2 linked regions of the Homo sapiens genome follow. The protein of the gene in region 1 interacts with the protein of each later gene in a biochemical or structural test. Each region holds a gene or a part of one and is shown on either strand. Other genes may lie near its edges.

Evidence for each region. Proteins that work in one complex are often made in the same cells at the same time.
Region 2: the proteins of SIPA1L3 (region 1) and DGKZ interact in a test that uses a peptide from one of them, tested with the Homo sapiens proteins (one large-scale study listed by IntAct).

Annotation. Positions count from the first base shown.
Region 1 is NC_000019.10:38,081,708-38,085,207, reverse strand, and holds part of SIPA1L3 (signal-induced proliferation-associated 1-like protein 3), read right to left. Parts: coding exon 2,109-3,500; intron 1-2,108. UniProt on the Homo sapiens protein: Plays a critical role in epithelial cell morphogenesis, polarity, adhesion and cytoskeletal organization in the lens.
Region 2 is NC_000011.10:46,350,463-46,353,962, forward strand, and holds part of DGKZ (diacylglycerol kinase zeta), read left to right. Parts: intron 1-3,500. UniProt on the Homo sapiens protein: Diacylglycerol kinase that converts diacylglycerol/DAG into phosphatidic acid/phosphatidate/PA and regulates the respective levels of these two bioactive lipids.

The DNA of each region.
Region 1 (3,500 bases):
GCCCGGCCTGGAACTTCTTTTTTATCCCTTTCTTTTCAATCTCTGTGTCATTCTGTTTGTGCATGTGATATTGATATAATCATCTTCATTTGTCACACAGTCTGAAGGGTAAAACGTATCACGTGGATCAGCTATGGAACAGATACCCCAAACCGAGGGCTGTCTGACTCCAAGTTGGAGCTCCAGTGTCCTGTGGGATGACTTAACTGACATTTGTTATGTTTGACAAGGATATTACTTTAAATATTTTTAAAAACTAGTTGCTGTGAGCTGGGCATGGTGGCTCACGCCTGTAATCCCAACTCTTTGGGAGGCCAAGGTGGGTGGATCACCTGAGGTCAGGAGTTCGAGACCAGCCTGGCCAACATGGAGAAACCCTGTCTCTACTAAAACTACAAAAATTAGCTGGGCATGATAGCGAGCGCCTGTAATCCCAGCTACTCAGGAGGCTGAGGCAGGAGAATCGCGTGAACCCAGGAGGCAGAGGCTGCAGTGAGCTGAGATCGCGCCACTGTACTCCAGCCTGGGCGAGGCGACAGAGCGAGACTGCCTCAAAAAAAAAAAAAAAAAAAGAAAAAGAAAAAAACAACAAAAAAAAACCTAGCTGCTGTGGGGTACTAGCTGCTAGTACTTCGTCTTTTTTTTTTTTTTTTTTTTTTAAGAAAAGCCCTCTATTCTTGGAAAAGAAAAACTTTGTCTAGCTAAAAACCTGCGTTTCCCAGCCTCTTTTGCACACAGGTGTGGCCACTAAGTGCAAGTAGTTGGACCGGGCTTCTGAGAAAGCTCTTTAACGCATTTATGCCGGAGGCTGCAATTTTTTGAATTTTTCCACAAGTAAAAATTCAGACCCTGGCAATGTCCTTGAGCAGTAGGCTATAACTCCCACATGCTTAGCGTTCCAATAATGAAACACTAGGCATAAGGGCATAAGGGGGTTGACTTGACAAGAGGTCTGCCTTTTTGTCCTTACCCTTTCCTCTTTTTCTCTGCCTGGAAACACAGATGTGACGCCTGGCACTCCAGCAGCCATCTTGGTGTGGAGCAGTGGGGGATCATGCCATGCACTAAGGCTGACCATACTGATGCTTAAGACTGACCATACCAGCCCTGGGCTGCTGAACTCTGGATTTCTTCACAGGAGAGTCCCTTCTATGTTGTTTAAGCCTGTTACTAGCAGTTACAAGCAATTCTCAATTTTTTTTTTTTTTTTTTTTTGAGACAGAGTCTCACTCTGTCACCCAGGCTGGAGTGCAGTGGCATGATCTCAGCCCACCGCAACATCTGCCTCCTGGGTTCAAGCGATTCTCCTACCTCAGCCTCCCAAGTAGCTGGGATTACAGCCACATGTCACCATGCCTGGCTAATTTTTTTGTATTTTTAGTAGAGATGCGGTTTCACCATGTTGGCCAAGCTGGTCTTGAACTCCTGACCTCAAGTGATCCGCCTGCCTCAGCCTCCCAAAGTGCTGGGATTACAGGCGTGAGCCACTGCGCCGGGCAGTTCCAAGACTTTTGTATTCGCTGCTCTGTTCTGGGAACAGTGTCTGCAATTTGCACATGGTGACTTCAGCTTGGTACTCAAACTGCACCTGCCTCGGAGGCCCCCTCTGACCATCCCCCACTGGGATCTGCCCCCACCCTCCGACACTCCATTTCCTTCTTCCCTGCTGTACTCTTTTCCACTGCATTTAGCAGCCTACAATCCCTTGTGTATTTTTCGTATTTATCCTGTTCTATGTTTGTGTTACCCATGAAAACATTATAAGTACTAGGAAGACAGAACATTTGTTTTAAGCTGGTTGATACTACATCCCCAGGCTCTAGAGAGTGCCTGGCACTGAGCTGTCCCCAAGTCCATATGTGCTGAGTAAATGCAGAGCTGTGTCCTGTAGCTCAAGGTTTATGGAGTGCTGCTGTGTCAGACACAGGGCTGAGGCCCGGGTGGCTCTGCTCACCGGATCCTCACAGCCCTCCAGAAGGGAGGTCTCTGTTCCCGCCACATCCTCAGTGCCAGAGCAGGGCCTGGCACAGAGTGAATGAATGAGTAGTGGGGGTCTCGGAGGCAAGCCTCGGCCCACCCAACCTTCCCACCCACACGCCATCCGTCACCTTTGCCCACGAAGTAATCCTGGTAGTAGCGGGCGCCCAGGTCCACATGCTCGATGCTGTACTGCCGGGGCCGACTCTGCGTCCGCTGCTGCTCCTTGGGAACTTCCAACACCGAGATGCTGGCGTTGGTGCGGTAGGCGCTCAGGGCGGGCTCTGCCAGGTGGCCCTCGCCGCTGCTCGGGGAGCCCACGGAAGCCCGGGAGAAGCTCACGTTGCGCTCACACTCGCCCCCGATCTCATTGCGGAAGTGCGGGCAGCTGAGCAGCAGGTCGTTGCTGTTGTCATCGCCGAGGTCCTGCTCCAAGTTCTCCTTGCAGTTTAGGTCCTCTGTGCTGGTGAAGGCCGGGTCCAGGCCTCCGAGGCTGTGGGCCCGCGAGGCCGTGAGGGAGGCCATGGCCGAGGCGGCGGAAGCGGCCGAAGCACCCGTGGTGGTGTTCCGCCGCTGCGACACCGACACCCTGTTGGCGGCCGCCTCGTTGAGGTCGAACAGCATGCTCTGCACGTCGAAGTGGGCGAAGCTCTTCTGACACACCCACGGCCTGCTGGCTTCCGGGGGGCTCCGGCCCTCGTCGGCCTCCCCCGGGGAACGCCCAGCCTCCCCCTCGGGTTTGCTGCTCCTTAGCTTCCGAAAGATGGACGAGTCCACCGTGTCCCCGCCGCCGAGGCCCCGCGCAGGTTTCTTCCGGGCCTTCTCCTTCTCCTTCGTGGGCTGCAGTGGCAGGAGGCTGTCCTTGGCGGGCTGCCCGTTGTGGGAGTCCCCCTTGGCTCCGCCGCCGCCCCCCATGAGGTGTGGGCCAGGATCTGCCCGGAGGAGCTCGGTGAGGGCCTGGCACCCTCGGGCGTCGGGCTGCTCGCTGCGGAACTCGTTCAGGATGTCGAAGAAGCTCTGCTCGGGCATGCCCTGCACGTCGATGGACGAGGTGCTCCCGTACTCGCGGAAGAGGGGCAGCGCCCCCGTGTGCCGGGCCCCCCGCGGCTCCCCCGCGTCCTCCGCGTCACACTCGCTGAGGGTGATCTCGCTGCTGCTGCGGTGCCGAAGGGGGAGGAAGGCCCTGCCGGGGGACCGGGGCCACCCGTCCTGGAACTCCACGTCTTTGGACCTTCTCCTGGAGAGTCGGTGGAAGGCTTTGGACCCTGAGGAAGCCGGGGTGCTGGTGGGGGGCTGTCCGTTCTGTATGCTCCTCATGGAATGGGCCATCTTGGTGGCCTTTGTGCCATCTGTGTCCTGGGAGGGGCTTGGGTTGCTGTGCTCTCTCAGGGCCTCCCGCTTGGGCGGCCAGTCGGCCACCCTTGCGCGCACGCCCATCTTGGGCATTGCGGGAGTGGTGGGGCTGGGGCGGGTGGTGGCGGTGGCGGTGGCGGTGGCGGTGGCCGGGCTCTCGCCAAGAGGCT
Region 2 (3,500 bases), on another chromosome or scaffold:
CTCCCCAGTCATCCACCCCATGTCCCCCATCCCGCCCCCTCCCCACCCCACCCACATACACACATCCAGCCTTGGGGTTGAGGGGCCCGACGGGAAGATCAAGGGTAACAACTAGGTTGGCAGTGGCTGCTGAAGCCAGGTGGAGAATTCTGCATGCGGGCCCTGGCTCATGGGGAGAGTTCCATGAACAATTAGCAGTGTCTGCTGTGGGCTTGGCAGGGGGTCTTGATGGCACATGGGCCACATGTTTGCCATCCTGGCCCCTCTGGGTAGGACAGTCTCTGAATGGCAGCCCCTGTGGGGCTGAAAGAGGCTTTTCCTTAAAGTCCATCTCTGCCCCACACAACTGGCGTCATCCTCTCAGAATCGGGGGGTGGCAGCTTGCCATCTCCCTTTTTTTTTTTTTTTAGCTCAGTGAGCCATGATTCTCCCCAGCTTGTGGATTCCTCCCACCCCAACTGCATCCCACCTTACTTCTTGCCGGAACTATCAGTCTCCTCCCTGAGGAGGAGGAGGAGGAGAGGAGGTACAGGCCCCTACTCTGATCCCAGGGTATTTAGTTTTCCTCTACCCTGAGCAGAGGGCAGGCAGGACCTTTCCATTTAAGCTTCTGTTGACCCTAAGGATTGGGCAGCCAGGAGTGGGAGAGAAGTGGACTCTCTCTCCTCCTCCAGGACCCACCGGGAAGGAGGACCCGCTTATCCTCTGGCCTGGTCTCAGCAGCCTGATCCTGGCAGGTCACAGGGCTTCTGGATTAGCTGGTTTTACACCCCAGGGGCATCAGAAATTACCTGGCACCTCACACATGTAGACATAAGGAGCCTTGGCCTCAGAGCCCCTAGGAGCCTGAGCGTCTGTGCCGCCATCCCCTGCCCTTCACGGTGCTCAAAGTCACAAGCTCCCAGAGGGCAGGAGGCACACCTGCAGAACCAGTGTGAGACAATGGGTCCCATTTAGAGGCACTGCCACACGGCCCCAGCGAGCATGGCCCTGAAGTCAGGGCTGCAGAGGGTGCCCAGCGGGTGCCTGAGCAGAAGCAGCCCCTGTTTGAGTTGGTTCTGCAATGAATAGGGAGGGACGTGTTGAGGGACGCCTCTTTTGCAGAGGTGAGAACCCTGTCTATGGTGCCAGGGTGTCTGGGAGCGAAAGGAAACCTCTTTGAGTGGTTTGTCTCACCTGGGCTAATGCTGGGAGCAGCCCAGGTTGCTGTGAGAGGCAGGGACAACCTAGAATCCTTGGGTTCCAGCAAGTTTGGGAAAGAAAAATGGGCCTCAGTGGCCGAGCTGCGTTCATCTCACTGTGTTTGCTCCCCACACAAGGTCAGGTGCCAGAGTATACAGCTGGCCCCTGCTGGGAACCCAGTGTAGAATTCTCACAGTCTCCCTCTGTGCCAAACGCTGTCAGGGGAGGGAATGACAATTCTTGTCATTTTGTCTCCATGCCATACTCCAAAAAGGTCAGATCCTGGGATGTGGAGCTGCCCAGGATTCTCGGTTGGCACAGGAGCTTGAGAGTTGGTGTCCCCTCAGGCAAGGACAGAGGAAGGACTAAGTGACCCCTGGTGAGAGAAAGCTGAGGCTCCAGGCAGCTGGGCTGGGGGAGAGTGAGAGAAACGGGCCTGCCCTCCTCGGCTCCCTGGAGGCCTCTCCAGAATTCGCCAGTGGCCCCCCCGGGGCAGAGGTGAAAGTGGAGTCATAGGTTAGCCCTGAGTCTTAGGCCGCGCGGGCCCCTCGGAGAAGCAGGGATCCGGAGCCCTTCCACCCACTTTAAGGCAGGAGAGAATTGGGAGGTGTGGAAGCAGCCCCTGGAGGCTGCCCTGCAGTGCCTCTGGAGCGACACAAGGGGGCGACAGCTGCCGTTGTGGGAGGCCGGTGGGCGAGGAGCTTCTCCTTCCGCCAGTCCACAGGCCCACGGGGACCCACAGGCACTCGCTGGAAGTTACCTGCAGCTCTAGCTGCCGGGCGGAGCCAATCAGTGCGGCCCAGGGCAGGCTGGGTGGGTGCCTCTAGCCTCCTGGCCCCACCCCTCCCGTCCCCTGAGGCCCAGGCCCAGCCAGGTGGCCTTGACTCAGCCAAGTTCTCGCAGCTAGCCGGGGTCATCTGGGACTCCCGCGCTGGGCTTCCAGGGCCATGTTCATTAAGGCCTCATCACAGGACCCAGGACAGGCTGACCACCTCTCCTCCCTGCCCCCTCTGCCTCCTCCTTGAACAGCCCTCTAAGTCAGCTGCGGGGGCAGTGTGTGCAGGAAGCGGGATCTGCCACACCTGCGGCCAGGTTCTTCCGCTCCCCGAGTTCCTGGGCCACCCCTGAGCGGTGCCAGGCACTCATTCCTTGCTCTTCTTGGCTCTCCTCTGTTCCGTGTCGGGGTCAGCCCCACATCCAGCCTGCAGTGTGGGTTTCAGCACAGGACTTGGCTGGCACTTGGGTCACAGGTGTGGAGGGTAGGCCAAAACTAACCAAATGCCCTGGAAGAGCTATCATTCTGCCATCTTTCCTCTTCACCCCCTGCCTCGCTGAAACACCAGAGACGTGGTTAGGTCGGGAAAGCAGGTTCGAGTGAGACCAAGGGCTCTGTGGCCGCGGAGGGGAGGGAGAGGCTGAAGAGACAGGAGTGGCGTTCCAGCTCCTCTGTCTTTGGTGATTAACAGCTGCCAGAAGCTTGTAAATTCATCAGTTTCATGTGATCTTCATAACATCTTTGTAGTTGGTTTGATTCCCATTTTGCAGATAAGAAAACCAAGGCTCAGAAAGGTCAGGGGCCTGGCCAGGATCCCCCAGCTCACACTGGAGCCCAGCCCAATGATCTTCTCATGACATTGGGCCACTCTACTTAGGAGTACTCTTTTCTTCTATTATTTGCCATCCCTAAACTGGGAAGACCTAAGAAGAGGTTTGAGTGCTCCATGGGGTTTAGTGAAAGGTCTTTGCCTCCGGTGCCAACGGTGTGAGACCCATGAGATAATCTGACCTGGACCCCCAAGGGAGAATGGCCACCAAGATCCCTCAAGTCAGGGGAGCAGGCTGGACTGGGAGAGACCCTTGGTAAAGAGACTGGGGCTGTGAGCCCGTCATCATGTGGCGTCCGGGCTGGGTCTGGCGTGGAGGACAAGTCTGATCTTTTTCCTTGCTTTAAGGGCGCAGGGAGTCTAAAGCCCAATGGACATGCTCAGAGGAGCCCCCATACCACCCAGGGGTCGGTGGCTGGTCTGGGGCAGGGAAGATCGCTTCACTCGTACCCAGTGCCTCATGGTGAGAGGTCTGAGAGGAGAGGGAGGGCCCCAGCATCCTCCTCATCTACACTGAGACCTCCTCCCCTTGCTCCTGGCAGAGCATCAGTTCAGAGCTCCCACGTAGAGGCCTCTCCCCTGCCAGGGATGAGCCCATCTCAGCACATGCCAAAATAGCTGTCTGGGAGCCTGGGCCCGCACCGCCCACACCCCAGCATCTCGCGGGTTAACAGCTTGCCTGTCTCTCCGCCCCCTTCCCCAGCTTGCTGACAT